Homo sapiens: one gene and its partners. The protein of the gene in region 2 interacts with the protein of the main gene of each other region in a biochemical or structural test. Each region holds a gene or a part of one and is shown on either strand. Other genes may lie near its edges.

What was found.
Region 1: the proteins of RNF41 (region 2) and UBASH3B form a complex in vitro, tested with the Homo sapiens proteins (one study listed by BioGRID).
Region 3: the proteins of RNF41 (region 2) and CLEC9A form a complex in vitro, tested with the Homo sapiens proteins (one study listed by BioGRID).
Region 4: the proteins of RNF41 (region 2) and ZAP70 form a complex in vitro, tested with the Homo sapiens proteins (one study listed by BioGRID).

What each region holds. Positions count from the first base shown.
Region 1 is NC_000011.10:122,650,708-122,658,864, reverse strand, and holds the start of UBASH3B (ubiquitin-associated and SH3 domain-containing protein B), read right to left. Parts: upstream 3,144-8,157; 5' UTR 2,816-3,143; coding exon 2,655-2,815; intron 1-2,654. UniProt on the Homo sapiens protein: Interferes with CBL-mediated down-regulation and degradation of receptor-type tyrosine kinases. Promotes accumulation of activated target receptors, such as T-cell receptors and EGFR, on the cell surface.
Region 2 is NC_000012.12:56,218,683-56,226,587, forward strand, and holds the start of RNF41 (E3 ubiquitin-protein ligase NRDP1), read right to left. Parts: upstream 3,241-7,905; 5' UTR 3,078-3,240; intron 3,020-3,077; exon of another isoform or gene 2,909-3,019; intron 1-2,908. Other genes in the region: NABP2 (SOSS complex subunit B1), read left to right, coding at 6,100-6,253, 6,691-6,829, 6,942-7,013, 7,497-7,578, 7,674-7,737. UniProt on the Homo sapiens protein: Acts as E3 ubiquitin-protein ligase and regulates the degradation of target proteins. Polyubiquitinates MYD88. Negatively regulates MYD88-dependent production of pro-inflammatory cytokines.
Region 3 is NC_000012.12:10,025,662-10,033,781, reverse strand, and holds the start of CLEC9A (C-type lectin domain family 9 member A), read right to left. Parts: upstream 3,101-8,120; 5' UTR 2,810-3,100; intron 1-2,809. UniProt on the Homo sapiens protein: Functions as an endocytic receptor on a small subset of myeloid cells specialized for the uptake and processing of material from dead cells.
Region 4 is NC_000002.12:97,709,102-97,716,592, reverse strand, and holds the start of ZAP70 (tyrosine-protein kinase ZAP-70), read right to left. Parts: upstream 3,018-7,491; 5' UTR 2,919-3,017; intron 2,712-2,918; exon of another isoform or gene 2,678-2,711; 5' UTR 2,599-2,677; intron 1-2,598. UniProt on the Homo sapiens protein: Tyrosine kinase that plays an essential role in regulation of the adaptive immune response. Regulates motility, adhesion and cytokine expression of mature T-cells, as well as thymocyte development.

The DNA of each region.
Region 1 (8,157 bases), on a different chromosome or scaffold from region 2:
CTGCTGTTCTAAGCCACTCAGTTTGTGACAATTTGTTACAGCAGTCACAGGAAGCTAATACAGTAACTAACACTTCACGATTGCTCACTATGTGCCAGGAACTGTTCTAAGCATTTTACCCACATTCAATCATTTCTATCCTGGCCCTACTGGCCCTAGATGGTGTGAGGCCTGGGCTGTGCAGATAGAATACCTGGGTTTGAATCCCAGCTTCACTGCTTACTGTTGTGACCTTGAGCAAGTTATGCAACCCTTCTAAACCTCAGTTGCCCAATTCATAAAATGGGCATGTGGTACCTTCCTCATTGAGTTGCTAGGAGGATAAAATGGGTAATAAAGATATAAGTACTTAGAACAGTATGGAGTAAGTATTCAATACATGCTAGCTATTAGGAGACCTCAGGGGTTAAACAAGCCAAAAATGACCCTTATGCTAATCTGTCAAGACATGTCAAGACCTCCTGGACTCAGAGCAGGAGAAAAGATGTCCCTTTAAAGCTGATTTGAATTTGAATCTCAAATATGACTGAGGAGTTCAGTTAAGTATTTCTTCCCTTAATTAAGCAATTTAGGTTTTTAATGCTGGCCTTATTTCAAAAAAGGCAGTAGCCTGAGACTATGCTAATTCTGCAGCATTCCCCAGCTGACTTCCCCACTCCCACCTCCAGCTTTTTTTTTTTTTTTTTCTTGAGATGAAGTCTCGCTCTGTAACCCAGGCTAGAGTGCAGTGGTGCGATCTTGGCTCACTACAACCTCCACCTACTGGGCTCAAGCGATTCTCTTATCTCAGCCTCCCAAGTAGCTGGGATTACAGGCATGCACCACCCCACCCAGCTAATTTTTGTATTTTTAGTAAAGACAGGGTTTCACCATGTTGGCCAGGCTGGTCTCAAACTTCTGATCTCAAGTGATCCGGCTGCCTCAGCCTCCCAAACTGCTGGGGTTACACCCAGCCCCACCTCCAGTTTTTAAGGAGAGCTGTGCACATTGATCATCCACACCGACGACTTCACCTGAAGCGTCCACACCTGACACACCCCTGCAGAACCCACATTTTCTCCCTGTAATTCTGGTATCAGGAACTGGAGCCCTAGTATTAGGAAGTCGTATTGGGACGTCAGTGGAAGGCAGAAACCATCAGTCCATTTTGCAGCCTTCTAAGGCCACTCCAACGTGTCCCAGCAGCCTGGAGAATAACAAATTCAAGGGTCTACTTTGATTAACAGATTACAACCAAGTTAGTAGAGAATAAACAAGGTTTGCCCAGAGATAAGGGAGGGGAGACATAAAGTTATTGCCTGTAATCCCAGCACTTTGGGAGACCGAGGTGGGTGGATCACCTGAGGTCAGGAGTTCGAGACCAGCCTGGCCAACATGGCAGAACCCCATCTCTTCTAAAAATATAAAAATTAGCCCGGTGTGGTGGCGCATGTCTATGGTCCCAGCTACTCAGGAGGCTAAGGTGGGAGAATCGCTTGAACCTGGGAGGCGGAAGTTACAGAGATTGCGCCACTGCACTCTAGCCTGGCGACACAGCGAGACTCCGTCTCAGAAAAATAAATACATAAATAAAGTTATCACCTGAAAAAAAAATGTGAGAAGGGAAAAAAATAAAAAGGACTTTCATTTACTTGGCCCTCACTGATTAAGTTTGGCCAACTCTCCTGTTCAGGTGCTGTAATTCAAAGATGAAAAGAAGCTGCGCCCAGTCCGGACGCCAGGCCTTGTGTCCCCACCTAAGAAATCTGCACGGCAGGGATTAACCAGGGGAGAAGGGCCTGGCCGCTGGGCCTTGGCTTCCTCTTAGGCAGAGTTCCAGCCCCTGAGACTTGAGCCGACCGGCCTGAGACGACTCCGGCCGCCGCCACCCTATGCTGGCAAACAGGCCTCTCCCCAGCAGGCTCCAGGGGCAGCCACCTGCGCTCTCCCTGCCCTCCCCTACCCCACTCTCCTAGAGGAAGGATGAAGAACAGCTCCCCCTCCTTACTCTCAGGCACCCACAGATTTCTGAGCTGCCGTCACCACTGACGAGAACCCAGGTCCCCTGGAGGGATCGCTTCTCCTTCTGATTCCATCCTCCCCATCAATGAACACGCAGGAACACCCACGCTCCCGCTCCTCCTACTCCAGGGGGAGACCGAACCCGAGAGCGACATCCGGAGCTGGAAGCCGCTGCAACGGGGGCGCCGGCCTCCCTGCCCCGCAGTCTCCCGCCCTTTCCCAGACACCGGAGGATCCCAGACCAGCCCAGTATTCCAGACGGAGAGGGTGCCCGAGTCCTCCGCAGGGCCCCGCCTCCCTAGGCGCTCGGCGCTGGAGACCTAGGGGAGCGCGCGAGAGAAACGCTGAGCTCCACCCGGCTGGGGCGGAGGCTGAGCACTATACCCGGGACTCGAACCCCGCGCCCTCGTCCCCCAGCTTTAGGCATCCCACGGCGAGCCCTGGCCCAACGCCCCCGCGCCGCGTCTTCCCCCGCACCCCCGCCCGGAGCCGAGTCCCGGGTTGCCAGCGCGCCCATCCCGCCCCCAACAGGTCTCGGGCAGCGGGGAGCGCGCTGCCTGTCCCGCAGGCGCTGGGAGGCGAGCCGGAGCGAAGCCGAGGGCCGGCCGCGCGCGCGGGAGGGGTCGCCGAGGGCTGCGAGCCCGGCCACTTACGCGCGGGCTCTGGGGAACCCCATGGAGAGGAGCACGTCCAGCGCCGATCCATGCTTGATGGTGCCGGGGCGCTGTTGGCGGTTCCTCCGGGGGGTGACTTTGCTGTACAGCTCCTCTCTCGCAGCCATGCCGAGCGGACTGGGGTGGCCGTACTGAGCCATGGCTCAGCGGCCAGCCATCGCCAGGGAAGGAGCCCGAGCCGGATGGTTCGGGAAGGAGGAGGGAGTCGGGCTGGGCCAGGGGAGGGGGCTCGGGGACCCAGAGCCAGGCAGGAGGCGGCGGCAGCGGAGGCGGCGCTCCGAGCTTCCCCAGTGTCGGGACTCTGACGCTTCCTGGTGAGGCCACAGGAGCCAGAACGCCGGCAAGCGGCCGCTGCGGGACCAGCCTCAGCCACTCGGGCCCCCGGCTGCCCCCAGCTCTGCGCCTGCAGTAGCCCTGTCTCCTCCGCCCCCTTCCCTCTCCTCGCCTAGCAGTCCGGGAATTTGCAATGAGTAATTTTTGAATGGATCAAAAAGGAAAAGGAGCCTTGTGGGCTGGCCCTGACTTGCCTGTACCCGGGCCCCGCCCCTCTCTTAAAGCGGCCGCGCTGTCCGAGGCTGCTCCGTGCGGGCAAGAGCTGTAGTCGCGCTACTTGGAGACGGAGGATCCCAACCTTATGGGCTGCTTGTGTGCTTCACCTCCCGAGAGTCACCCCCGGCGCCCCAGCCCTCTCCTTGGCTGGCATACCCGCCCAGCTGGGCCTCAAGACAGGAGATCAACCCATCTCAAGTTTCATGTGATTCTAGATGCGGTTATTAATGGAAATTGGGTGAACTGGTGGATGATACTAATGGACCAGAAGGCCAAGCCGTAAGGCCTAGGTAAAAGGTTTTGCTTCTCAAAGATCCTGCAAAACCCAAAGGGTTGTTAGGACCATCGGAAGTTGAGTTCCCAATCAGCCGGCCAAGTGGCTGCACTAAAGACCTACTGCGCTCTACAAGGTTATGGTCAGTGACTGAATAGTGCCTTCCCGGTGGGGCAGAGGGGTTGGGGAGAAGGACCTCAGGTTCTCAGAGGTGGCAGGACCTGGGAGGGGACAAGAAAAGAGGGACAGGGCAGAAAGAAGAGGGAAGGGAAAAAGAAAGGAGGAAGGAGGAGGAGAAGAAGGAAGGGCTAGGAGGGTAGAGGAAGAAGGAACAGAGAAAACATACTTCCTAATTATAAGAGGTGTTCAAAAGGGAACGGGCTTATTTCATTAGGGAGTGGATATCCTGTCAATAAAAGGATTCAAAGACGGACCGAATCACCACTGCACAATAATAAGTGAATTGTATCATAGGCTGGACAAAACTACTCCCACTGCAAAGATGGTGGAAGCCACAACCATATTGATGCCCCATGCCCCACCTGGTGAATTTGGCTGGGGGATGCTAACCCTCTTTCGTTTGGAAACAAAGTCATTGTCTTCAGTCAGGGACAAGGGTCCCACTTGCTATAATGAAAGAGGCAATGAGTACACCCTAACTGATAGTCTTTTTTGGGTAATAATAATAATAAAACCTAACATTTATTGGGCTCTTGTATGTGCCAGTCATTGTGCTAATCGTAATGAATGAACTCACTGAAGTTTTATACTGACCCTAGGAGTGTGTTTAATCATTATCCCAGTTTTACAGATGAGAAAACTCAGCTCAGAGAGGTTGGGGAAGATCATAGAGCTGGTAAGTGCGTAGCTACAGCACTCGTATCCACTGCGGTGCCTTAGACAAGTTACTTCTCTCTACAGCCTAATTTCCTCATTGGTATGGACCGTGGTAACCTAACCTTGCACACACTGGGTTTTCCAGAAATGTCAGTCCGGGCCTGTCCCTGGTTGGAATATGGGGGAGGGATGGTGACCAGCACCCATGGAGTGGCTTTTTGAGGTTGCTTTATAAGGCCTGTGAAGGTTTTACCAGGGGAAATGATACAGTGTAACTCCCTGAGCCCGGAATTGGTTTCCTAAAGAATAGCCAGTGGTGTTTGGAAGCAGGGAGATAAGACAGCTGGAGCTTAAGCAACAATGTGTATTAATTCTGCCTCCTGCTGTACAAAGGATGAGGGAAAATTAATGCTTCCTGGGTAGTAGCTGCTTCCAGAGCAAAGGGGATATCCTGGAGACCTTGCAGAATGCTCTTCCAGGACATGGAGCAAAAAGACAAGACTGGGCTGGCAACACCATACCTAGTATTAGCCTCCTTGGATGTGTTCGGTAAAACATGCTGGATTTTATCCAGTATTCTGAATTGTTTCCAAATGCCTGGGCTGAAAGTCAAATGATCTGGATCTTAGTCAAGAGATAATAATGTATGTGAAAGCGCTTTGTAAACCATAAAGCGCTACATAAATGATAACTCAAATTTATTGAGTACTTACTATATGCTGGTGTTGTTCTTTGCTTCTTACATATGTGACTCAAACAATTCCTTGACAAGACTATGAACTAGGAACTACTTTACAAATGAAGGTGCTGAGCCAGAGGTCAAGTATCTTGTCCAAGGTCACATGGCTAGTAAATGGCAGAGCCAAGATTTGAACTCTTAACATTTGGCCAAACAACTAGTTAACGACCATTGTTATGATGATAAAAGGACACCAGCCTTTAAGATAGTTTTTTGACTCCATCTATGCCCCTTGACATAGAATTGCTGGATCTCTGTTTCTCCAGAAAAATTGAATTAATTGTCTTTCTCCCTGCCTTTAGGCAAACTGTAAGATAAAGGAAATGATGCATATAAAAATAGTTTTAGGTAGACTGGAAAAAGCACTATGAAAAACTAGGCACCTGAGATGCAAACTGTTTTTGTCTGGGACACTTTTACAGAAATCCCAGCTTGGCTTCCTCACTTGTCTTCAGCTCAGTGCAAACCCCTGTTTTATTTAGGACTCCTGCCATTTGTTCTGCACTGGGTTGGGGGGCTGGCAATTCAGATGCATTGTGCTTTAATTGTGTTGACGTTGAAAAGCTAGGAAAAGCTTCATAAATGTCTACACTGTTCTATTACAAAGAGAGAAGAGGGGGGCTGGGTGCGGTGGCTCACCCCTGTAATCCCAGCACTTTGGGAGGCTGAGGTGGGCGAATCACAAGGTCAAGAGATCGAGACCATCCTGGCCAACAAGGTGAAACCCAATCTCTACTAAAAATACAAAAATTAGCTGGGCATGGTGGCATGTGACTGTAGTCCCAGCCACTCCGGAGGCTAAGGCAGGAGAATCGCTTGAACCTGGAAGGCGGAGGTTGCAGTGAGCTGAGATCATGCCATTGCACTCCAGCCTGGTGACAGAGCAAGACTCCATCTCTAAACAAATAAATAAATTGAGAGAAGAGAAATGACTATTCATCTGGCAGTATATCTTACAGTGGCCAAAAGAAGTGAGATGGGAGTAGGGGTCTTGCACAGGGACAGAGCTGACACATCAGCATGAAGTTCCTCCCTCAGAAGGGAAAGCAAGTTGACATGTCTCCGTGTGTGGTCATGTCAGAATCCACTCTGGACCACAAAGCTCTCTTTGTTCATGTGAGCATGTTTAACCCTCCCTCATTGGCCCCTGCCATATTTTTGCTATGGTACATCCTCTCAGATGGCCAGAGGGAGACCCAGGATGGACCCAGTTGGCTGCACTCACAATTTCTGAAGCATGTCCTATATCTTCTCCTTCTCCTTCACTCTGTCCTTGAGGAACGGTCAAGTAATAACAATAAGAACATGCAGTAGGTCTGTAATTCTAGTACTTTGGGAGGCTAAGGCAGGTGGGCAGATTGCTTGAGCTCAGGAGTTTGAGACCAACCTGGGCAAAATGGTGAACCCCATCTTAATTAAAAATATAAAAATTAGCCCAGCATGGTGGTGTGTGCCTGTAGTCCCAGCTGCTTGGAGGGCTGAGGCAGGAGGATTGCTTGAACTTGGGAGGTCGAGGTTGCAGTGAGCCAAGCTGAGATGGCACCATTGCACTCCAGCCTGAGTGACAAAGTGAGACCCTGTTAAAAAAAACAAACAAGGCCTGGCGCGGTGGCTCATGCCTGTAATCCCAGCACTTCGGGAGACCGAGGCGGGTGCATCGCGAGGTCAGGAGTTCAAGACCAACCTGGCCAAGATGGTGAAACCCTGTCTCTACTAAACATACAAACAAATTAGCCAGGTGTGGTGGCAGGTGCTTGTAATCCCAGCTACTCGGGAGGCTGAGACAGAGAATGGCTTGAACCTGGGAGGCAGAGGCTGCAGTGAGCTGAGGTCACGCCCGCCACTGCACTCCATCCTAGGCAACCGAGCGAGACTCCGTCCCAAAACAAAACAAAACAAAAAAACAAACAAATAACAACAACAACAAAAACAGGCAGTAAAGTCTGCCCACTGTTTCAAATCCTAAAGGCTGGGGTGTTGCCTTGCCAAACAAAGGCAGCTTTGGAACTGCTGGGAATGACTTTCACCCCTAGACTTTAAGGGGATCCTTCGTGGTCAGAAGATTTTGAAACCATGTGCTGCCCCTCTCTGGGCCTCAACTTCCTTGCTTGCCAAATGAGGGGATTAGCTTAGCCTGGGGATCGCTAGGATTTTGTCAAGGGACCCCCAGGAACTTTGAGGGACAGGGGTTGGGGTCACCCAACTGAGGATTAAGAGGGTAGTGTGGTATCCTCTTTTCTTTCATTGTAAGTCTATCAGCTTTATATGTTGGGAGTTTTTTTGTTTTTTGTTTTGTTTGTTTGTTTTGAAACGGAGTCTCTCCCTGTCACCCAGGCTGGAGTGTAGTGTCACGATCTCAGCTCATTGCAATCTCTGCCTCCCGGGTTCAAGCAATTCTCCTGCCTCAGCCTCCCAAGTAGCTGGGATTACAAGCATGTGCCATCACGCCCAGCTAATTATTGCATTTTTAGTAGAGACAGGGTTTCACCATGTTGGCCAGGCTGGTCTCGAACTCCCAACCTCAAGTGATCTGCCCGCCTCAGCCTCCCAAAGTGCTGGGATTATAGGCATGAGCCACAGGGCATGGCCAAGATCTAATTTTTTTAAGTGTTTTTTTCTTTCCTTTTTTTTTCTTTTGTTTTGTTTGTTTTGCTTTGTGTTTTTCAGGGTCTTGCTCTGTCACCCAAGCTGGAGTGCAGTGGTCTCAACTTGGGCTCAAACTATCCTCCCACCTCAACCTCTTGAGTAACTGGGACTACAGGTGTGTCCCACCATGCCCAGCTTCTTTTTTTTTTTTTGGAGAGATGAGGTCTTGCTGTGTTGCCCAGGCTGGTCTTGGACTCCTGGACTCAACTGATTCTCCTGCCTCAACCCTTCAAAGTGCTGGGATTATAGGCATGAGCCACCACACCTGGTCCCAAGATCTCATTTTGAATAGACTTGTTTTGTTTTGGGTAGAGACAAGGTCTTGCTATATTGCCCAGGCTGGTCTCTACCTCCTGGCCTCAAGTGATCCTTCTGCCTTCCTCTCAGCCTCCCAAGATGCTGGGATTAAAGGCAGGTGAACCACCTCTCCCAGATGA
Region 2 (7,905 bases):
TATACATATTTATTATATATATATATGTTATTTTTTTTTTGAGACAAAGTGTTGCTCTGTCGCCAGGCTGGAGTACAGTGGCACGATCTTGGCTCACTGCAACCTCTGCCTCCCGGGTTCAAGCGATTCTCCTGCCTCATCCTCCCAAGTAGCTGGGACTACAGGCATGTGCCACCATGCTGAGCTAATTTTTGTATTTTTAGTAGAGACGGGGTTTCACCATGTTGGCCAGGATGGTCTCAATCTCCTGACCTTGTGATCCGCCCGCCTCGGCCTCCCAAAGTGCTGGGATTATAGGCGTGAGCCACCATGCTTGGCCTATTTTTCTTTTTTTTTTTGAGATGGAGTCTTCCTCTGTCGCTCAGGATGGAGTGCAGTGATGCAATCTCCTCAGCTCACTCCAACCTCCACTTCCCAGGTTCAAACAATTCTCCTGCCTCAGCCTCCTGAGTAGCTGGGATCACAGGCATGTGTCACCATGCCAGGCTAATTTTTATTTTATTTATTTATTTATTTATTTTTTTTTTGAGACGGAGTCTGGCTCTGTCACCCAGGCTGGAGTGCAGTGATGCGATCTCGGCTCACTACAAGTTCCGCCTCCCAGGTTCACACCATTCTCCTGCCCCAGCCTCCCAAGTAGCTGGGACTACAGGCGCCCGCCAGGACGCCCAGCTAATTTTTTTTTTTTATTTTTAGTAGAGACAGGGTTTCACCACGTTAGCCAGGATGATCTTGATCTCCTGACCTCGTGATCTGCCTGCCTCGGCCTCCCAAAGTGCTGGGATTACAGGCGTGAGCCACCGCGCCCAGCCAATTTTTATATTTTAGTAGAGACAGGGTTTCAACATGTTGGCCAGGCTGGTCTCAAACTGGCCTCATATGATCCACCACCTTTGGCCTCCCAAAGTGCTGGGATTACAGGCGTGAGCCACTGCGCCCGGCGTAATATAAGGTGTATATATGTGTGTGTGTGTATATATGTGTATATACACGCGCGCACCCCTTATACATACTGTCTGCAAATCAAATGAAATAATAAATACGAAAGGAGGCTGGACGCAGTGGCTCACACCCGTAATCCCAGCACTTTGGGAGGCCGAAGTGAGTGGATCACCTGAGTCCAAGAGTTTGAGACCAGCCTGGGCAACATAGTGAAACCTTGTCTCTACAAAAAATACAAAAATTAGCCGGGCATGATGGCGTGAGTGCCTGTAGTCCCGGCTACTGAGGAGGCTGAAGGGGGAAGGTCAACTGAGCCGAGGAGGCAGAGGTTGCAGTGAGCAGAGATCGCAGCACCGCACTCCGGCCTGGGTGACAGAGTGAGACCCTGTCTCAAAAATAAATAAATAAATAAATAAATAAATAAATAAATAAATATGAAAGGATACTGAATACTGTTATCCTCAAGTAAGATTATTTGTAGCAACAGAATACAAAATAAGGCTGGGTGCAGTGGCTCATGCCTGTAATCCTAGCACTTTGGGAAGCCGAGATGGACCAATCACCTGAGGTCAGGGTTTTGTTTTGTTTTTTTTGGCGGGGGGTGTGGGGAGACAGAGTCTCACTCTGTTGCCCAGGTTGGAGTTCAGTGGTGGAATCTCAGCTCACTGCAACCTCTGCCTCCTGGGTTCAAGCAATTCTCCTGCCTCAGCTTCCCAAGTAGCTGGGACTACAGGTGCATGCAGCCATGCCCCGGCTAATTTTTTATATTTTTAGTAGAGACGGGGTTTCACTGTGTTGCCCAGGCTGGTCTCGAACTTTTGAGCTCAGGCAATCCGCCCGCCTCGTCCTCCCAAAGTGCTAGGATTACAGGCGTGAGCCACCGCGCCCGGCTACAGTCAGAGGTTTGAGACCAGCCTGGCCAACATGGTGAAACCCCATCTCAACTAAAAATACAAAAAATTAGCCAGGCATGGTGGCAGGTACCTGTAATCCCAGCTATTCAAGAGGCTGAGGCAGGAGAATCGCTTGAACCCAGAAAGAGGTGGCACTGAGCCGAGATTGTGCCACTGCACTCCAGCGTGGGTGACAGAGTGAGACTCCGTTTCAAAAAAAAAAAAAAACAAGAATGCAAAATAAATTTAGAGTACTGAGAGTCGGAGAGGAAATGCTTGACAAAAGCTTGTTCCTTCTTTTTACTAGAAGGCAGGGCTAGCCACAGGTCGGTCGGCTTAACATTGCATCACTCACATTCCCTACCACTAGTCCACTACATTCTTATTTGGGGCAAAACTATCAGCCAACAACACTATCAGTCTCTTGCCCTATTGTCAGACTCTAAAACCCCTGTATAGAAAGGGATAACACTATCACGGGCCAGTCCCCAAGAACAGTGGCCTCAATAACAGCCCCACTTGCTATTAAATGAAATGAAGTTTCTGAACGGGGAAGCAGTCTGTCAATCCCTCAAGCAAAACGCCTTCACCCCTCCTGGCTTTCTGCTCTTCCTCTAGCCCCCTCCTCCCCACTACCCAATTTCCCAAAGTCCTGAGTTAGGGAAGGCCTTCCAGTGTGTGGTGTGTGAACCCTGCCAGAGAGCCAGGCTGCAAACCAAGCGCAGGGATGTGAAGAATGTGAGATTCCTTCATGGAGGGCTGGGAGGGGGTGAGGAGCGGGGAAGGAATGAGAGGACAAGGCTGCCAACGACAAGGCATGGGAGAGGAGCCAAGCTATGGCGCTTCGAGGGCGGGGGTTTAGGTTCCACCGCCCCTGCCCAGGCTGGCCCCCGGAATGCTCCCTTCCTCCCCTTCTGGCCCGTCAATCATTGCCCATTTAAACACCACGCTGTTCCCCCAGTTCTGCAGGTGCCGGTCCTCCAGCTAGCCCCGGCCCCCTCCCGCACTTCTCAAAGCTCCCCTATTCCAATGGACCTTCCCCAACAACCCGTTCTCCAGAGCCCCCTTCTCACCTCCCGACTCCTCGCCAGTGCTGCTCCCTTCTCACATTTTTATCTCTACCACCATCCCTCCTCCTGAACCCCAGTTATTTCAACCCCCCGCCCCAATACCCCTGGGACATCACCTCCTCCCCTCCCACACCCTCTTTTAGGTGGAAGATCGCGCAGGCGCAGTACGCACCGCCCTGGAAGCGGCCTGGAGTCTCCGCAACCTGACCCAGTCGGAGCTGAGGCCGCAGCGGCCACAGTACTGCCCTGGTGCCGGGTCCCAGCCTCTCCCGGGAAGGGAAGGGAAAGGGGAAGGAGGGGAAAGAAGACTCCTACCACTCGTCGCCGCCTCAGACGGATCCTTTGCCCCGCCCACCGCTGCTACGCAACCCGGCGGAAGCTCGTCACCAAACCCCGCCTCTTTGTTTAACTCAGCCCCTACACCAGCAGCCAGGAGCTGCCTACGAGGAGGGACGAAGGCTGGCCAGGCCTCCACTCTAGACAGGAAGTCTAGTCTAGAGTCTATATGGTCCCAGCCAGGACTATGTAGCCATTTAGGAGGGAGAACTCTATGTTCTTCCCGGCAAAAACGTGTGGGCCTGGCCGGCCACGCTTCGCTTTGGAGGGGTGCAGGTGACTTGTGTCTTAGAGCTGACGCAGATTGTTGCGAGATCATTGCGGAGAGGCAGGCCTGCAGCGTGACCTGCTGCGGGTCCGGCCCCTCTCCCTTTTCCAGAGCCCTGGTCAGCATCCCAGAGCTTCGTAACCCCTTGACTCCTGTCATGGGAATGGATATTGCAGTTAACAAGGCGGCCGCGGGGTGGGGAGTGAGGGAGTCTGACCGCAAAGCTTAGATCTGGGGTGCTCAACGGGTTGTCTGCCTCTCTCCCAGGCGCTCTCCTGCCGTATCCACGATGGCTCCCCGAACACTTGTGGAGTTCCCTGAAACACCTAAGAGGAAGGAAGGGAGAAAAAATTTCCCTCTTCCTGAGTTGGGGTTTGATTTCCTTAGCTTACAACACCGTGGTGTTGGGGATGTGGGCGGTAGAGAACGTGGGATCCAAGGGAAGTCAATGTGGAGCCTAAAGAGCTCCGTGAGCAGATAAGGGATTAATTAAGCAAACCAAGGCATTACAATCACATGACTTCCTAGACTAATCTGGTATTAAATAGTATGGTATTTATTGTGGACATTGGCTAAGCAAATGCTAATGCACATTAATACACACATACACACATATCTTTATGTAATTTGTTTATACACAACAATACAGAGCTAGCTACCTTTTGTGGACAATTTGACAGGTCCCAAAAGGAACTAAAGTTTCAGGCCTCCTTTCTGCTGTCTTCTAGCGGGACTCTGAGATAAGTAAGATAAGAGTAGTATGGCCGGGCGCGGTGGTTCATGCCTTTAATCCCAACACTTTGGGAGACCGAGGCTGGTGGATCACGAGGTCAGGAGTTTGAGCCCAGGCTGGCCAACGTGGTGAAACCCCGTCTCTACTAAAAATACAAAAAAAGTAGCCGGGCGTGGTGGCGGGCGCCTGTAATCCCAGCTACTCGGGAGGCTGAGACAGGAGAATCGCTTGAACCCGGGAGGCAGAGGTTGCATTGCAGTGAGCCGAGATCGCGCCACTGCACTCCAACCTGGGCGACAGAGCAAGACTCCTTTGCCGGGGTGGAGCGGTGGGGCGGGGCGGGGAAGAGTAGTATGGCCAGGTGCAGCGGCTCACGCCTGTAATCCTAGCACTTTGGGAGGACGAGGTGGGCGGATCCCTTGAGGTCATGAGTCCGAGACCAGCCTGGGAAACATGGCGAAACTGTCTCTACAAAAAAAATACAGAAATTAGCCGAGGGTGGTAGTGCGAACCTGTAGTACCAGCTACTACGGAGGCTGTGGTGGGAGGTTGCAGTAAGCCAAGATTGCACCACTACACTCCAGCCTGGGTTACACAGCGAGACCCTGTTTCAAAAAAAAAAAAAAAAGGGACTAACAATGTTTCTCTCTTTGTCGCAGGTTCCATTTCTTCCAAGAAGGGTGAGCCTGCCTTTTGTCTCTGGTGTAAATGCCACTTTTCCCAGAGACCTTGACCAAGCTGGGTAGTGCATTAAAGATGAGAACCCCAAATCAGGAACAAAGATAACGGTTAGAGCAATAAAAAGGGAGGAAACCGTGTGTGCCTACTGTGTGCAAGGCACTTTTTTAAATATAACTTCCGTTTTCTCGTAAGATGGAATTACATATTTTTTGTCTTTTTTTCCCTTTTTGTGGAGAATGGGGTCTCGTTATATTGCCCAGGCAGGTCTGGAACTCCTGGACTCATGCTATCCTCCAGCCTATGCCTCCCTACGTGCTGGGATTACAGGCGTGAGCCACCGCGCCTTGCGGAATTGGAATTACATATGTTTAAATAGTCGAGAAATGAAGTGAAGCATTGAGCCAGGATTCAAACTTTTGTCCGCCAGATTCCGAAGCCCTTGCTCCTTTTCCCATTGTGTCACTCTTTGGAAAGAAACGTCTTAGAACCTAAGTGCATTCTCCCTAGCCAAGTTAAGGAAAACTGGGGGCCCTGTGCGCCTTCTAGTGGTGGATTTTTCCCCCTACAGAGCCAACTATCTCCAAGGTTCCTTTAATACCTGAAATTCGCCCCCTTCGCGGCGCACGAGTCTCTGATCCCGATTGGCTGGGCAGGGCAGGCGGCGGGACGCAGGGCGCGCCCGGGCGGTGCTGATTGGCCGGAGGAGGCCAGCCGGGGGAAACTTCCGGGAATGTCCGCACTCCCGCGTTCCACGGGGCAGCATCCGGCGGCAGCGGAGCCTGTGGCTCCCCCTGCGGGCTGCTCAGCGGCGTGCACAGTCCTGCCGGCTGGCTTGGGTGGGTGGTGGGCTGCGGGTAGGGGAGGGGATGGACCGAGTCCCGGCTTGTCGGGATGAGGGTTCCGGAAGATCTGGCCAGTAAGATTCTACTCCCTGGCTGTGCACCGGGTTCCCTACCCCTGTCTACGTCGGCTCCGCCACTTCGCGGCTTGAGACTAAAAGAGCATCCCGGCAGGGGGCCTTCCAGCCCCAAAGCAGCCTGTCCAGAGACCCCCAAATTCTGATCCTGAAGTTGGAGGCCTCCGGGGATGTTCTTTTTTAATCTTTTAGAAGGGTTAGAGGGGTTGAGGCTGCCTGACCCCAGCCTAATGGGGTAGGTAGGCCTTGGGAAGTGGAGCATGGGGGCAAAGGATCCAAGCATTGAGCCTTCATCCTCTATTCCCCATCCAGTGGGGTGCCGAGGCTCAGGCAGCATGACGACGGAGACCTTTGTGAAGGATATCAAGCCTGGGCTCAAGAATCTGAACCTTATCTTCATTGTGCTGGAGACAGGTGTCTATACTGGGGTGGCGGGTTCGCGGGATGGGGGTCGGGGGCAGGAGGGGAAGAACGCTGTCTGCGTTCTTAACTTGCTATGGGGATGGCAAGGCAAGCTGCAAGACACTCCTCACTCCCAATCTCTTCGACCCTGGGACAGAAAGTTGCAGTCAGGTATAGGGTAGATAGAACTCTTGCCAGATCTAGACCTCCTGTGCGACGCGGGCCTCTTTCCACTCAGGGCCCTCTCCATGGTGCTGGCCCCTGAACTCCCACCTCCACCCTCCACCACCCCTTCCACAATCCCAACCCTTTATGCCCCAGGGATTTGGGCTTTCCCCTGTTTGTACACCTTTTCCCTCATTCCACCAATATCCACATCTCATCCTTCTGAGAGATACCACTCCATTTATTTGACCATCCTCCCACCTCGATTTATCTGTTCCGTTCAGGCCGAGTGACCAAGACAAAGGACGGGCATGAGGTTCGGACCTGCAAAGTGGCGGACAAAACAGGCAGCATCAATATCTCTGTCTGGGACGATGTTGGCAATCTGATCCAGCCTGGGGACATTATCCGGCTCACCAAAGGGTAAGTCAGCTGGTGACTTCTGGCCTTCCAAAGGCAACAACAATCAAGAGTGGGGTTAACAGTCCCTATAACACTTCTGAGTACTGAATTTTGCTTTTTTTGCCTCCCATAGGTACGCTTCAGTTTTCAAAGGTTGTCTGACACTATATACTGGCCGTGGGGGTGATCTGCAGAAGATTGGAGAGTAAGTGCTGTCTTGGGGATTGGGATGAAGAAGCACCAGGGCAAAGGGGTTTGCAAGGAGGCAGCATAGGGTGTGCAGTCCAAGCCTCATTTCTGGACTTTTTCTGTTTGTTTGTTTGTTTGTTTTGAGAAACAGTCTCTGTCGCTCAGGCTGGAGTACAGTGGCATGATCTGGGCTCACTGTAGCCTTGACCTCCCGGGGTCAGGTGATCCTCCCACATCAGCCTCCCAAGTAGCTGAGACTACAGGCGTGCTTCACCACACCCAGCTAATTTTTTTGTATTTTTTATAGGGATGGGGTTTCGCCATGTTGCCCAGGCTGGTCCCAAACTCCTGGGCTGAAGTGATCCTCCCGCTTCTGCCTCCCAAAGTGCTAGGATTACAGGTGTGAGTGACCACACCGAACCTATCTGGACTTTTCTGAGGCCTCCAGCAGTGGCCCAGAGGATGAATTCAAGGCTTTAGCTACTTTCTTCCCTTGCAGATTCTGTATGGTTTATTCTGAGGTTCCTAACTTCAGTGAGCCAAACCCAGAGTACAGCACCCAGCAGGCACCCAACAAGGCGGTGAGTCCTGTGGCCACAATGGTGGGAAAGGAGGGCAGATCAAGACAAGAAGCATGGGAGGGAGCAGGATCTGAATATGTAATCTGTGCCTTCAGGTGCAGAACGACAGCAACCCTTCAGCTTCCCAGCCTACCACTGGACCCTCTGCTGCCTCTCCAGGTAAATCTGTTCCCTTCTATCCACTGGTCCTCCTAGCTCTCCCACTCTCCTCAGCCTAGAAAGATGCATTTCCCTCATTCCTTTTCCAAATCTCTCTTTTCTCAGTGTATCCTCCTTCACCCAATTCTCCCAGACCCCTTTTTTTTTTTTTTTTTTTTTTTTTGAGAC
Region 3 (8,120 bases), about 46 Mb from region 2:
TGTGAGAATGGAAAGACTGTTAAAGAACAGAGTGAGAATGAATCCTCCTATCATGTTAACTCAGCATTTCTTTTAAGGTATTCTCAATCAACAATACTTCCATAATTAATAACTGTGCTTCCATATTTTCCAAGGTGAACAATATTTTCTGACATGTTTAATTCATGTGAGAGCAGCAAGAAAAGTCAAAGGTGATTCCAAGTTTTTGGCAGAGGAACCGTAGGTATGGAATATTCATTTATCGAGATGGAGAAACTCATTGGGAAGAGTCACTCATTTTTTGATGTGTTAAGTTAAAAAATCCTAAAATATATCAAAGTCAATATGCCAAGAATCCAGTCAGATATGTGGTTCTGGAGATCAAGCAATGGTATGGAAATATAATTTTGGACATTATCAATGTATGGCTATTAAGTCATGAGGTTACAAGAGATTAATTCCCATTCTGGCCATTCTATGGGTACTATCCAATTTAGTTCATCCCAGGATAAATTAAAAAAAAAACAAGAGGACCAAGAACTGAATTCTGGGACACAACAACATTTTAAATTAATTTAAGGAGGAATCCAAATCTGAGGGAGGATTGGGTTGTGAATGAAGCAAAAGGAAATTGAAGAGAACGGTGTCCTAGGGAACACTGTATTTTAGAGAAGAATGTATGTTATGAAAAGGGAATAATCTTTTTTTTTTTTGAATGCTTATCTGGTGCGTGAGATGAATTCTGAGAACTAGCCATTAGATGTGTTCATGTGGAGGTTAATGGTGACTTTGACTGGAGTGTTTTCATAGAAATAGTGAAGGAAAAAGCCTAATTAACATAAAGGAAAAGTAGGATGAAACAGTAAGCACAGAGAGATTTTTGAACATTTTTGTTGTCAAGAAAATTAGAGAAATGTTAAGAAGAAATATAAGAAAATTAGAATCGTGTGTATGGGGGCATGGTAAACAAAAGATGGCTTTTGCTTGTTTTTAACATAGGAGATATTATACCATGTTGGGAGGTGAAGGTGAGTGAACAAGTGGAGATGAAAAGAAATTGATAGTGCCAGAGCGAACCAAAGAAAGAAAATTACAAGCTTGAAATCCCTATTGGCCGGGCGCGGTGGCTCACACCTGTAATCCCAGCTCGTTGGGAGGCCGAAGCGGGCGGATCACGAGGTTAGGAGATCGAGACCATCCTGGCTAACACGGTGAAACCCCATCTCTACTAAAAATAAAAAAAAATTAGCCAGGCTTGGTGGCGGGTGCCTTTAGTCCCAGCTACTCGAGAGGCTGAGGCGGAAGAATGGCGTGAACCCGGGAGGCGGAGATTGCAGTGAGCCGAGATTGCGCCACTGCAGTCCAGCCTGGGTGACAAAGCGAGACTCCGTCTCAAAAAAAAAAAAAAAAAAAGAAATCCCTAAGGAGGTAGGTGGATGGATTTTAATATACAGATGGAGATTGAGCATAGATTATGTTACGGGATCTTTGGGATGTTGATTTTCTGTTCAGAAACCTGTGTGGCTGTGGCGTCTTTGCCCGAGTTCTTGTCCTGCGTCTATGGTTGCTAGATTGTATGTTAATATTATACTTAGCTCTGTAAGAAACTGCCACACTGCCTTCCAAAGTGGCTATGCCTTTTTACCTCTCACCAGCGGTGAATGAATGCTCCTGTTGCTCCACATCCTTGCCAGCATTGGATGTTGTGAGTATTTTGGATTTTAGTCATTCAAATAGTATACAGTGGTTTCTCATTGTTGTTTTAATTTGCAATTCCCTCCTAAGGTATGACATTGAGCATCTGCAACACTGAACTTAGCTCTCCAAACAAGGCTCAGCCTTGTCTGCATTCCTTTCCCTACCCTCACTTCCCCTTCTACTTGGAATGTTATTTGTAGCATTTGTTTGTCTCCTGTAACCCTGCCAATCCTTCCCAATCCTCAGAGCCTTCACTGACAGCATCGGGCGGCTCACTCGTTCCTGCTGCCATAGTAATTTGTGCGTAACTTTTCTTGAGATTTATCACATCCTGTTATTATATGCTGTTTCTTCTACCGACATTGGTTGCTACTCCCATTTCTCAACCTCCTGGCTTCAAGCAATCCTCCCACCTTGGCCTTCCAAAATGCTGGGATTACAGGTGTAACTAACTGCACCTGGTCTTGCTACTCCCGTTTCTAAATAAAATTTCAATCTGAGTAAAAACTAAAGCCAATTTCTTCCCAAAATGGTGGGGGGCACTGGACACAATATCGAAGACCATTAGCACAATCAGTAGCACCAGACAATGAGTCAGCAGAGTCACTAAAGCCTCAGGCCACGAGTTAGAAGACACTTCACAGATTAAAGGAAATCAACAGAGGAGTAAGAAATAACCAGGGATGGCCTCCTGGAGATTTCGTGTTTGACTCCCTTTCCCTCTCTATCTCTAAAGAGAAAGTGCAGAGGGCATTTTAGACTGAGGGATCAGTAGGAGCAAGAGTAAGGAAGCTACCTGATTTACAGAGGCTGTCTACTGCCTGCAGTATCAGGCCATTGAAATACACTTAACGTCTTTCCACCAGCGGCTCCAGCCTTCCCCTCCACTTGCATCTTCCCTCATCCATCTCTGCAGATGATACATACTCCCACATATCATTCATTATTTCTTAAATATATCAGCTCACACCTTCATATTATTTTACATTTCTTCAGAATCTTTCCTAACCTAGAATGCCCTTTCCCCTTTCTCCTTTAATCATGCCTTTCTTATAAAGTAGGTTCAGATGACCTTCTCTGTCAGCATCATCTGTAATGACATACCTTCCACCCTACTGCCAGTGGTTCTTACCTCTTCTGCAGAGAGTATCATCAGTTTGAATCATTTAGATCTTGGCTAACATGGGAATCTTTACCATTGTGTGGATCAAATACCCAGATCTTGATAAGAAAAATAAAAATGCTATTGTCACATAAATGGCTGGGTTTAATCATCTGTGGGCCTTAGAGTATGTTTTCTTCAGGACAAGGTAGGCCGTTGTGCTTCACAAGAGCTTGCGAGTTATTTGAGAAGAATCAAAACATGTTGCCAGTCTAGCAGAAAAGCATTTCAACTTCACCACAGATTGCCACAGCCGGGTACAAACGGAAGTCCCGCCCCCTTCCAGGTTGTTGGGGTGGGAGCTGCCGGATGAGCTGCTGCGGCCCTCGGGGCGCAGGACCACACCATCTGCGCAGCCTGCACCCTCGCGGCCCGGTAAACTTGACAGTTTCTTATAGAGGTAAGTATAGTATTAACAGACAATCTAGGAACCATAGAAAGTGGAAAACCTGTACACACTGCTGAGACCAGCTCGGTCTGGGAGACCCTAACCCAGAGGCGCTAGAGGAATTAAAGACACACACAGAAATATAGAGGTGTGAAGTGGGAAATGAGGGGTCTCACAGCCTTCACAGCCGAGAGCCCCGAACAGAGATTTACCCACGTATTTATTAGCAGCAAGCCAGTCATTAGCATGGTTTCTGTAGATATTAGGTTAACTGAAAGTATCCCTTATGGGAAACAAAGGGATGGGCCGAATTAAAGAAATAGGTTGGGCTAGTTAACTGCAGCGGGAACATGCCCTTAAGGCATAAATTGCTCATGCTATTGTTTGTGGCTTAAGAATGTCTTTAAGTGGTTTTCCACCCTGGGCGGGCCAGCTGCTCCTTGCCCTCATTCCCGTAAACCCACCACCTTCCAGCATGGGTGTTAGGGCCATCATGAACATGTCACAGTGCTGCAGAGATTTTGTTTATGGCCAGTTTTGGGGCCAGTTTATGGCCGGATTTTGGGGGGCTTGCTCCCAACACACACAAAAACTGGCACACACATTTTCACAGGAGCTTTATTCATAATTGCCAGACATTAGAAGTAATTATGATGTCTTTCAAAAGATGAGTGGATAAACAAACTGTGGTACATTCATGCAATGGAGTATCATTCGACAACAAAATGAAATGTTGTCAAACTATGAAAAACATGGAGGAATCTTAAATGCATATTACTACGTGAAAGAAGCCGGTTTGAAAAGCTATCATATTATCCTAGCTATATGACATTCGAGAAAAACCAAGACAAAGAAAACAAAGAGATCAGTTGTGACCAATGATTCAGGGGAAGAGGAAGATTGATAGGAAGGGGGAAGATTGCTGAGTAGGTAGGGCACAGGGGATTTTTGTCTGCAAAAATGTACACCCATGTACATAAGCAGGGCTCTGAATTTTTTAAACTTTTCAAATTTTGTGGCAGGGCCTATTGAATGGGTTGAGGGAGACCTTCCTGATTGATACCTACTAATGTATATACAAATTTGAGACAGATATTTTGAGGGAGAGTGGAATTCAGGTACAACATACCTATTACCCCAGAAAGGTGTCAAGTGGAAGTAAAAAAAAAAAAAAAGAGGTGTGTGAGGTAAAAAATTAAATTAAATTCTAAATGAGGACATGGAGGTTCTTGTGGAAAGTTTTTTCTTGTATATATATATATATATATATATATATATATATATATATATATATACACACACACACACACACACACTATGTTTTCTTTATCCACTTGTTCATCAATGAAATGAACATTTAGCTTGTTTTCATATTTTGGCTATTGTGAACATGGGAGGAAATGAGATATTTGTAAGACTAACTCAAACATTGCATTAAATGGTCCATATTTAATATAAAGAAATCAAGATAATTAATATATACGTCTGGCTTTTCAGATAATGGATGTAAGCCCTGTCCTGAAAGGTGGCAATGGAGCAAAAGACCAGTAATATAAAATAATTCAGGAATCCATAACATGGCAAGACAGCAAGGATAAAAATTTTTAGAGGATCTCTAAAATTTCTACCTTACTCAATATAGAGAATAAGGAATTGGTAAATATGCAGGTCTCCTGTCTTTTGTTAAAATTTACAGAGGTGAGGTGAGAAGGTAAGGGTAAGTTAAAAAAATTATTGAGTACCTAATAATAAAATACTATGCTCTCAGGCGAGTCTATAAATGATCACATTTAATTCTTCCTTTGTGTGCAAACAACAGCCTTACAAGTCTGGTAATATCATTCCTAATTTTTAGATATGAAACCTAGGCTTTAGAGGATAAGAAACTTGATTTAGATCACACAGCCTGGTTTTGCATATTGAATAGGATAACAAAAAGAGACAGAGGAAATATATACTTCCTCATTTAAATACTTATTTTTGTCTTTCATTATTGAATTCCAAATCTAACACATCATTCTGGAAAAGAGAATCTAGGGAAATAATAGTGTACAAGAAGAAGAAAATAAAATATAAACCAAAAAAGAGAATAATTTAAAAAATACATCGTATCTTGAATTTATAATTGTTCTAAGGTGGATACATTGTTATTGTATAAAGTTAAGGTTTACACAACAACTCACCTGCCTTCTGACAATTCTGACAATCAAATGCAATACTTTGGAAAGTTTTAGGAGAGCACGTTTCATTAGGGAATCAAATTTTCAGTCTAGGTAAATGAAAAGTATGCTGAAAGAAGAGAATGTACGACTGATCCGGGGAAGAAGCTTTAAAAAGTAAACACTTAATGAGATTTTTATTTATATTGGATTTAATAGAGTTTGGAGGCAGAGGAAAAGGCAGGATAAGAAAACAACTTCCTAACTTGTGCATTTTTTTTCAATGTCCATCCACAGCACAGAAGCCGTGGTGGTGTCATGGAATATTGTCAATTTCGGTTACATTTCATCATGGTCAAGTCAACTCCAGGAGGCAGCATCATGGACGATTTGGCTTATGTTCTGCTTTTGTCTTCTACAGAACCTTGTGTCTCACTGTTGTCTCCTTCCTGGCTGGGGTTATCACATGGCATATCCAACTGTGAGTGTGGGAAGATGGCATAATCCTCTGACTGTGTCAGAGTCTTAGGAAATTGTGACTGTTATAAGATGGCACAATCTCTTCCCTGATGTGTGTCAAGTTCTTAGAAAATTGTGGTGAGCTATTCCTTTTTCTTTTGGCAGGTTTTTGTCTTGGTGTTTACCAAGTGATCCGAGATAGAGAGAGGGAAAGAGGAGAGAGAGAGAGGGAGAGAAGGAGAGAGAGCGGGGGAGAGAGAGAGAGAGAAAGAGAGACAGAGAGAGACAGCGAGATGGGGAAAAAGAGAAAGGGAGAGAGAGGAGACAGGGAGAGAGGGACAGAAAGAAACGGAAGGAAAGAAGGAAGGAGGAAGGGAGGGAGGGAGGGAGGGAAGGCAGGCAGGCAGGCAGGCAGGCAGTTTTATTGCATGATCTGTGCCCTTAACCACAATGATTTGCTTCCATGGAATGAATTTCCTATTTAGCCCTCTGATTACCTAGAGGTAACCTCATACAGATGATCTATAATGAAAGTGATTGGAATACAGTAAGCTTATTTTTTTGCCAGGATTATAATACCTGGTATGATACTAGTTTACATCTCTTACAAACTACCTAAGACTAAATTTATAAGTTCTGGTCTATTATTAAGTGAGGTCTATGCAATTTCAAATACTGGGAAAATGCATGTACTGAAATATGCATTACTAGAAAATTAAAAATTACTCATTTTAAAAAATGAGTTGGAATTCCTGTTAGAATTCTTATAACCAGCATGCCCTTATATCCCTTAGGAGACATTTTTTGGTAATTTCCATTCCTTTTATGATTAAAAATGTAGGTTTTTTTTTTGTCTACTGTATTAGTCTGTTCTCATGCTGCTTAGAAAGACATACCCGAGACTGGATAATTTATAAAGGAAAGAGGTTTAATTGACTCACAGTTCCACATGGCTGGGGAGGCCTCACAATCATGGTGGAAGGCAAAGGAGAAGCAAAGTCATGTCTTGCATGGTGGCAGGGGAACTCTCCTTTGTAAAACCATCAGAACTCATGAGACTTATTCACTATCAGGAGAACAGCACAGAAAAAACTCGCCCCCATGATTCTATTACCTCTCACCAGGTCCTTCCCATGACACGTGGAGATTCTGGGAGCTATAATTCAAGATGAGATTTGGATGGGGACACAGCCAAACCATATCAGCTATGCGAATCTATAATTTTCTCTTTTTAAATTTTTTATTTACTTTAAGTCCTGGGATACATGTGCAGAACCTGCAGGTTTGTTACATAGGTATACATGTGCCATGGTGGTTTGCTGCACCTATCAACCTGTCATCTAGGTTTTAAGCCCCGCATGCATTAGGTATTTGTCCTAATGCTCTCCCTCCCCTTGCCCCTCATCCCCTCAACAGGCCCCAGTGTGTGATGTTCCCCTCCCTGTGTCCATGTATTCTCATTGTTCAACTCCCACTTATGAGTGAGAATATGCAGTGTTTGCTTTTCAGTTCCTGTGTTAGTTTGCTGAGAATGATAGTTTCCAGCTTCGTCCATGTCCCTGCAAAGGACATGAACTTATTCTTTTTTATGGCTGCATAGTATTCCATGGTGTATATGTGCCACATTTTCTTTACCCAGTCTACCATTGGTGGACATTTGGGTTGGTTCCAAAGTTTTGCTATTGTAAATAGTGCTGCAATAATTTTCTCTTAAAGTCTGCTTTCTCTTCTAGCAAAAGAGCCAGAGGAAAAGCTATACTTATACTTCACCAGCCTCCAAAATTCCCAAAGTTAAGACACAGACTTAAGGACTGCCATAAGCTACATTTCTGTCAACTGAATTATAATCCTATTGTCTTCTAACAGGAATATAGGAAAGAAATAAAGATAAATGTTAATTCTGTAACATAGTCATGTAAACATAGCCTGCAACATATACAACTTTCTTTTGCTCCTATGATAAATTCAAATGTGCAATATACCACAAATGGGGGCCTAGATCTGAGGAATCAAGCTTTCATAGAGCAATAAAAGCGTTTATTTTGTTCATTTCTAACTAACAACCTAAAATATAAAGTTCTTAGAAACAAATAGTTTAAATTAATAAAATGAATATGCCACATTTTATTTTTATTCTATTCACATGTCAATGGACATTGAGGTTGCTTTCGTGTGTTGGCTATTGTGTACAGTGCTGCAATAAACATAGGAGTTCAGGCATCTCTTTGAAATTGCAATTTCAATTTCTTTGGATATATACCCAGTCATGGGATTG
Region 4 (7,491 bases), on a different chromosome or scaffold from region 2:
CTCCAACACCTTCCACTTTATTCAGGTCTCTGCCTAAGTCACCTCCTCCAGGAGGCCTTCCCTGACCTCCCTCTCCAAAATAGCCTCTCCTTCTCTCTCTAGCCCTGACCCAGCTTTGTTGTTCTTCACCACCTAAAAGATGATATTGTATCTATTGGTGACATAGTACCTTTGTCCCTGCCAGAATGTAAGCACCACGGGAGTGGAGCCTTTGTCTTGTTCTCCTACCTATACCAGCATGGCACAGAGGAGGTGCTCAATATACCAGGTACCTACAAAGGTCTGCAGTCCACTGGGATGGGTGGGGATGCCTCTGAGCACCGGTGGAACCTGACACCTGGGAAGGGGTGAGGGGCCACAGGGGCTTCCTTGGGTGGAGGATGGCGGGAGAGGAGGGGCCCATCCTGAGGATCCTGGCCACAGGCTATTCCCTCAGCCCAGAACTGCGCTGCATCCTTCTACTGGGCCTCCGGCTTCAGGCCTCCTCCGTTGTCCCATCCTCCCAGAAGCATTCCATGAGCCCTGCCCCCTCCCCAGCCTGGGTCAGGCACCTCCCCTAGGCTTCCAGGGTCCCCATCCTCCCACATCACAGCCCTGATGGCCTCTGTCTCTGCTCCTCAGTCCCTCACCAGGCTGAGCTCCCCGAGGCAGGGCCCACGGCTCTGTCTTGTTTTCTATGGAAGCTCCTGCTTCCTCCCCACAAATATTTGTCAAGTGTGTAAGGACAATCACAACAGCCTCTGTGCTGGGGACTGCACTACCCTTTGCGAGCATTAGCCATTTATTCTAATTCTCACCACAACTACATTTGGTGGGAACTGTTATCCCACTCCTCAGCTAAAGAAACTGAGGCTCGGAGAGGTCAATGTCACTCTCAGAACATGCAGCCTGCAAGGGGCCACCAGGATTTGAACTCAGGTCTGTCCAATGCAGCAGCCAGCACTAACCACTCCAGCAAATGTCTATTAGGAGACCCTGGAGAGCTGGGCTGGTGCGGGGTCAGGGTCAGATTCCCCAACCCAGCACACTCTCCAAGTGTCTGTTGATTGAACAATGCCCTTCCACCGCCCCTCCAGTGAGGCCCCCAACTCCGGCCTCCACTGCCTGTGTGACCTCAGCAAGCAGCGGTCCCTCTCTGGGCCTCAGGCTCTGTGACTGTAAAAGGGAGATGGGAAAAGGCGGTGTGAGTCAGGAGGATAGGGGCTGATAGAGACAATGGAACAGGGTGGGACTGTCCTGGGCCTTGTAGGCTGTTCACAGGATTCCTGTCCTGGACATGCTGGATGCCAGTAACACCCGCTGGGTCACAACCCAAACTGTCTCCAGGCACTATCAACTGTCCCAGGGAGACGGGAGGAGGTAAAATTGGCTCTGATGAGAATGGCTGCCTTAACCCTGTACCTTGGGGTGGGGCAGGGAGTGGTCAGCACGGGGTGGTCTGGGTGCTGCAGCCCCGGAGAGCATACAGGAACTGTGGAGTCCAGAGCCCGAGGCCACCCAGAGCTAGTGAGGATAATGAGGGTTTTAGTGAGACCTTTCTGCAGCACCTGTATGTGCCGGGCAGTGTGGATACAGTCACTCTCTTTATCCTCCCGAGAGCCCTGGGAGGGAAGCACAGAGAGATGCGGTGACTGGTCCAGTCACACAGCTGGTGAGTGGCAGAGCCAGAATGTGAAGCCAGGCCCCCAGGCTCCAGAGTGTGCACATCAACACCACCCCCGCAACACTGCCAGGGCAGTGGGGCTGAGGATGGAGGGCAGGTGTGAAGAGGAAAAGGAAGCTCTGGATTCAGCAGGAGGCAGCTTCACAGGTGGCACCTTAGGAGTCCCTGACCCTGATCTCTCAGCAAGGCATTATTAAACACCTCCTGTCTGCCTACTGTTCCAACCAAGACGAGAGTAATGAATCATCTCGAGCTGCTCACCTCATGAACTCCTGTTCCTTCCTGTCGGGGATGCTTCCTACCTGGGACACATTTCCCAGCCTCTCGCCAACAGTCAGGAACCAGGCGCCTGCCAGGTGCCCATATCTGCATGTGCATTTAACAGATGCACAAACTGAGGTCAGAGAGGCCAAGCAACTTGCCGAGAACACACAGCAGTTGAGGAGAACTCGGTGTTTTGCTCTTTCTCTCTCCAGGTCTTCCTCTAACCTGAGCTCGCCTACAAGTGGCTCAAGCCTGCCCTGGACTCCTCACAGGAATCACAGCATTCTGCTGATGGAGCTCACGGCCCTGGTGAGCAGCCCCCTCATCTTCACAGAGTGCACATGCGCTTTCTCTGGAGGTTTCTCTGCCTCCGAGAGCCAAGGATGCAGCCAAACAGGGCCCAGCAGGAGCCCAGGGACTGAGCAGGCCTCACCGTGTCCCCTGAACAGCCCCGCTCGGCCAAGCCTCTGGAGGGGGAGCTGCTTCCCTCAGCGTGGCCACAAGCCCCGTCTGCCTCCATCTCCAGCCAGTCACCACCCAGCCCAGTCCTCCAGCTCTCCTGGTCCTCCCAGCAACCTCCTGACTCCCAGTTAATATTCTGTCTTCCTCCTCCAGACACAGCCCACCATGGAGACGGTGGCCAGGTGCCACTCCACCCAGGCACCACTTACCTGGGGACGTACAGGTGGATGTCCAGGCAAACAGGCCACTTGCGGGGTCTCTGGTCCCAATGCCAATGGAGAGCCGGTTCTGGGTGAGGAATCGGGGCTTACAAAGCCGGTTTGGATTTCCCTGCAGCCCAAGCCCCCAGCCTGAGAGGGAGGCCCTGCCGCTCACACTCTCCGCACACACCCCGGGGGAGGATGTCACACCCCGCCAGGGTTTCTCACTCATGGATGGGGGGGGTTCATCCTCTGCCAGGTCTCCCAGAGCCCCCTGGGGTGGCCCTGGTGGCAGGACACAGGCAGAAGGCCCGAGGACAGCCGCTTACCTGAATGCCCCAGCAGCAGCTCTGAGGCCCACGGTGGGCCAGGCCTGCCCGGAAGGCCTGGTGTCTGCTGAGCTCCGGCAAGCAGGCTTGTCTGAAACTAACCTATTTCCTGGATGCGAAGACAGGAAAGGGGGCTGTGTTTGATGTTTACATCAAAGTCACAAAGTGCTGTGCTCAAGGAAAATCACAGGCCACGTGCTCCAGGGAGGCAGAGGGCATTTCCGGGGCCCAGCACTGCCTGCCCAGCTGCAGGATGGGACTGAGAGATGGGAATGAGGCTAAGCAAAGGCAGGGTTTCAGGAAGGACGACTCCAGCAGCAGGAACCGTCAGAAGGGAGGAAGCCTGCATACCTGGAACCGGAGGGTAGGCAGCAGTGGTGGGAAGGAGGGGAGTCCCAGGGCTCATGGAAACTGGAATGCCCCCATTTTCCCCTCAAAGGGGCGTCGCCCTGGGGCCTGCACCAGCTAGACAACCCAGAGGAGTGATTTGTTTATTCCACAGGCAGGTTAGAGCTGGAGGGAGGAGAAACCCACTGAGTCAGCCCATACCCCGAAGGTGAGAACCCCTTCTGTGCCAGGCATCTGGATGGCAAGGACAGCCTGCCCTTGCTCTCCAGTGGCTCGCAGGCTTGTTGGGGGCAGCTGAGTCCACAGGGAGCCAGGGCTGGGAGGCCGGAAGCCTGGGCACTGTGTGTCCCCAGAGTATCCCCAAGCCAGCCTGGAGGATGTCAGGGATGCGTTCCAGGAGGAGTCAGCCACCCAACCGAGACACAGAGCCAGGGCATCCCCAGTGCTAGCCCGGCCCACCTGGGACCTTTCCCACGAAGCTGAACCTGGCTGAGTGCCATCCCGCTGTGGCCACCACCTCCTCCTCCTCTTCCTCTCCTCCCTTCCCTCACCCTGTGCACCCCCTACCCTTGGGCCTGGGGCCACACCTCATGCACTCTCTCAGAGAGGGGCCTGCAGAGCCACTCCCTCGGCTCCATCTCCCCTCTAGTGCCCCAAGGCCTCTGGGAGCCCCTTGCCCACCACCTCCTTGCTTTCTTGGGCACTAAGGGAGTCGTCACAGCTCTCCTGTCTGTGGGGCCTCAGAGACCTGTGTGGAACTGCCCTGGGCCCACTGTGGAGACTCCTAAAGCTTTTCTTCTTGGGGTCCTGCTGCCCTTGTTAAGTGGGCTTGTGATACCCTACCTTGTTTTAACCTGAATTGACTCTCCCTTAGCTAAGAGAGCCAGACAGACTCCATCTTGGCTCTTTCATTTGCAGCCCCTTACCCACCCCGCTTCCTCAAGGACTTAATTTGTGCAAGCTGACTCCCAGCACATCCAAGAATGCAATTAACTGATAAGATACTGTGGCAAGCTATATCCGCAGTTCCCAGGAATTCGCCCGGTTAATAGCACCCAGAGCCCCGGCGTTTGTGTCCGGTTGATAACGCCCAAAGCCCCGTGTCTATCACCTTGTGATAGATTTTAAGCCCCTGCACCTGGAACTGTTTGCTTTCCCGTAACCATTTATCCTTTTAACTTTTTGCCTGCTTTACTTCTGTAAGATTGTTTTAGACCCCCACCTGTCCTTTCTAAACCAAAGTATAAAAGAAAATCAAGCCCCTTCTTTGGGGCTGAGAGAATTTTGAGCACTAGCTGTCTCTCAGTCGCCAGCTAATAAAGGACCCCTGAATTCGTCTCAAAGTGCGGCGTTTCTCTGTAACTCGCTCGGTTACAACAGGCTCAGCTCCCCAGTCTGCCTGAGGATCCCCTCACACCCTACCCCGAAGCCTCCTTGGGGACCTCCTTTCTGGCCCTCTACTATCCTCTGGCCGCCTGAATCCCCTTTAGAAAATCTGAGTTCCGGCTCTAGGCTACTTTTCTCCTTCATACAGCCCCCTCCAAAATGGTGTTTGCTAGCAGCCTCCCTTTTCCCCAGCGGCATCTTGAAACTCCAGGTGCAGCAAGCATCCCTTCACATCCATGCTGGACGCTCATTTCTTGGAGTATTGAGAGAAAAAGACACCGGCACCCTGAAGAGAGGAGAAATTACAGCATCAAATCACATTCATACTACAATAATGAGAGTCGCACTGATTATGTGCCAGACATTGCTGTACGCACATCACAATTAATAAGCCATTCAACCTATTTTCCAGATAAGGTAAGTAAAGCCCAGAGAGGTTAAGAGATGCCAAGTGGCCAGGTGGGATTGCAGCCCAGGCAGCCTGACCCCACCCACGTGCTGCTGGACATAAAAGAAGAAAACTTTGGTTGTAAAATATCTCCCCGAAGGAGGCCAGCGCCCCAGGGAGCTGGAAGCTGAGCCAGCTATGGGACAGGGTGCCTCTGTGTGGGTGGGGGGCTTCCAGTTTCCAGGGTCTTCAGGTCCTGAGAAGGGGATTCCCAGCCTCTGCAAGGCACTGGCCCTACAACCCTTGAGCCCCCCACTTCCTGTCCCAGAGGCTGGTCTGGAAACTACAAAGCCCAGTGCTCAGACAGCTCTGAGATTGGGCTACAGATAATCCGAGATTGGCATGCAGATAAGGTCCTCTGTTCTGCCAGAGTGGAAGGAGGTGGATGCATCTTTTGAATGTTTACAGTAAAGGGCAAACGGATGGAAATGTGGGCTAGGAAAGTTGCGGTGCCTTTGCCTCATCGGGTTGGGGTAAACATTCACTCTACTCATGCCAAGAGCCTCGAAGAAATTCATCAGTCACCCCCATATCCTCAGGTCTTTGCCCACACCTCTTCACCTGCCTATTTCCTAGTCCTCTTTCAGGTCTCCAATTAAGCGTGTTTTCCTCCAGGAAGGCTTCCCAATCCTCAGACCGGGCAGGGATGGGCTTTCTGTCCATTTCACCTGGAGCTGAGCAGGTCCAATCTGGCTGCACAGTTAAGAGAACACAAGCCACTGCTGGGAGACGTGCAGCAGGGAGATAGGGTGGAGGCTCCAGCAGGCCCGAGAGGAGATACACCCCAGTGCAATGAGCCCCAAAGGAAACAGGTCCATCCAGGGCCCCTCCTGGATTCCCTCTGGGTGTACAGAAAAATGGTGACTTTTTTTTTTTTTTTTTTTGAGACGGAGTCTCGCTCTTTCACACAGGCCGGACTGCAGTGGCGCTATCTCGGCTCACTGCAAGCTCCGCCTCCCGGGTTCACGCCGTTCTCCTCCCTCAGCCTCCCAAGCAGCTGGGACCACAGGCGCCCGCCACCGCGCCCGGCTAATTTTTTGTATTTTTAGTAGAGACGGAGTTTCACCGTTAGCCAGGATGGTCTCGATCTCCTGACCTCGTGATCCACCCGTCTCGGCCTCCCAAAGTGCTGGGATTACAGGCGTGAGCCACCGCGCCAGGCCAAAAATGGTGACTTGTATCTCCTTTCCTTCTGGTTCTTTTCTGGTTCTGCCACTTAACCCTGAGGGACCGTGAGCACGTTACTTAGCCTCTCTGCGCCTTGGTTTCCTCCCTTAGGAAACGGGGATAATGGTACCTGTCTTGTAGGCTGTTGTGAAAGTTAAAAGAGGCCTAAAGGCAAATGCTCCATTACTGCTACCACCACCGTCATCTCTCATGTCTAGTGACTGCGCGTCCGAGTGCAGCAACGGGATTCCCTTGCGCCCTCCAGGGGCAGCTCTCCAGTATTGCAGGCTGCCAAGCACAACTCAGGCGTCCCTGAAGGCTGAAAGTGACCACCGCCCTGCCCTGAAATAAAAAAAATTAATCCAGCTGGTTTAAGTCAGAAAAGAATTGCTTGACCACAGCAGCCACATGCTGTGCTCTCCCCTGGGGGCTTCTCAAGTGGATGGCTCCTTCGGAAGCCTTCAAACTGCCATGGCACTGCCACCTCCTGAGACCCCTGGCTACTTATTTATTCAATACTGAACACCCGTTCTATGCCAGACTCTTTTCCGGGTACTCTGTTCTATGGATCCGCAGTGAACAGCACATGAAAATCTCTTCCCTCATGGAGCTGACATTCTAGTGGGAGAGACAGAGAATGAACAAAATAGATAAATATTTCATAGAGTATGTCACATGGTTACAGGTGCTAAGGAGTAAAATAAATCAGAAAGGGTAGGCGAGGTCTTGAGCATGTAATTTTGAGCCAGTCAGGGCATGCCTCGGAGGGGATAACCTGTGAATCAAGACTTGAAGGTGGCTCACGCCTGTAATCCCAGCACTTTGGGAGGCTGAGGCAGGCAGATCACAAGGTCAGGAGATCGAGACCATCCTGGCTAACGGTGAAACTCCGTCTCTACTAAAAATACAAAAAATTAGCCGGGCGTGGTGGCGGGCGCCTGTAGTCCCAGCTACTCGGGAGGCTGAGGCAGGAGAATGGCGTGAACCCAGGAGACGGAGCCTGCAGTGAGCTGAAATTGCGCCACTGCACTCCAGCCTGGGTGACAGAGTGAGACTCCGTCTCACAAAAAAAAAAAAAAAAAAAAAAAAAAAAAAAAAAAGACTTGAAGGAGATGTAGGAGAGAGCCACGGAGATACGGAGATATTGGGGGAAGAGCATTCCCAGCAAAGGTCTTAAGCAGGACTGTGTCATCTGTGAGGTAGGAACTATCTTGTTCCCAGCTG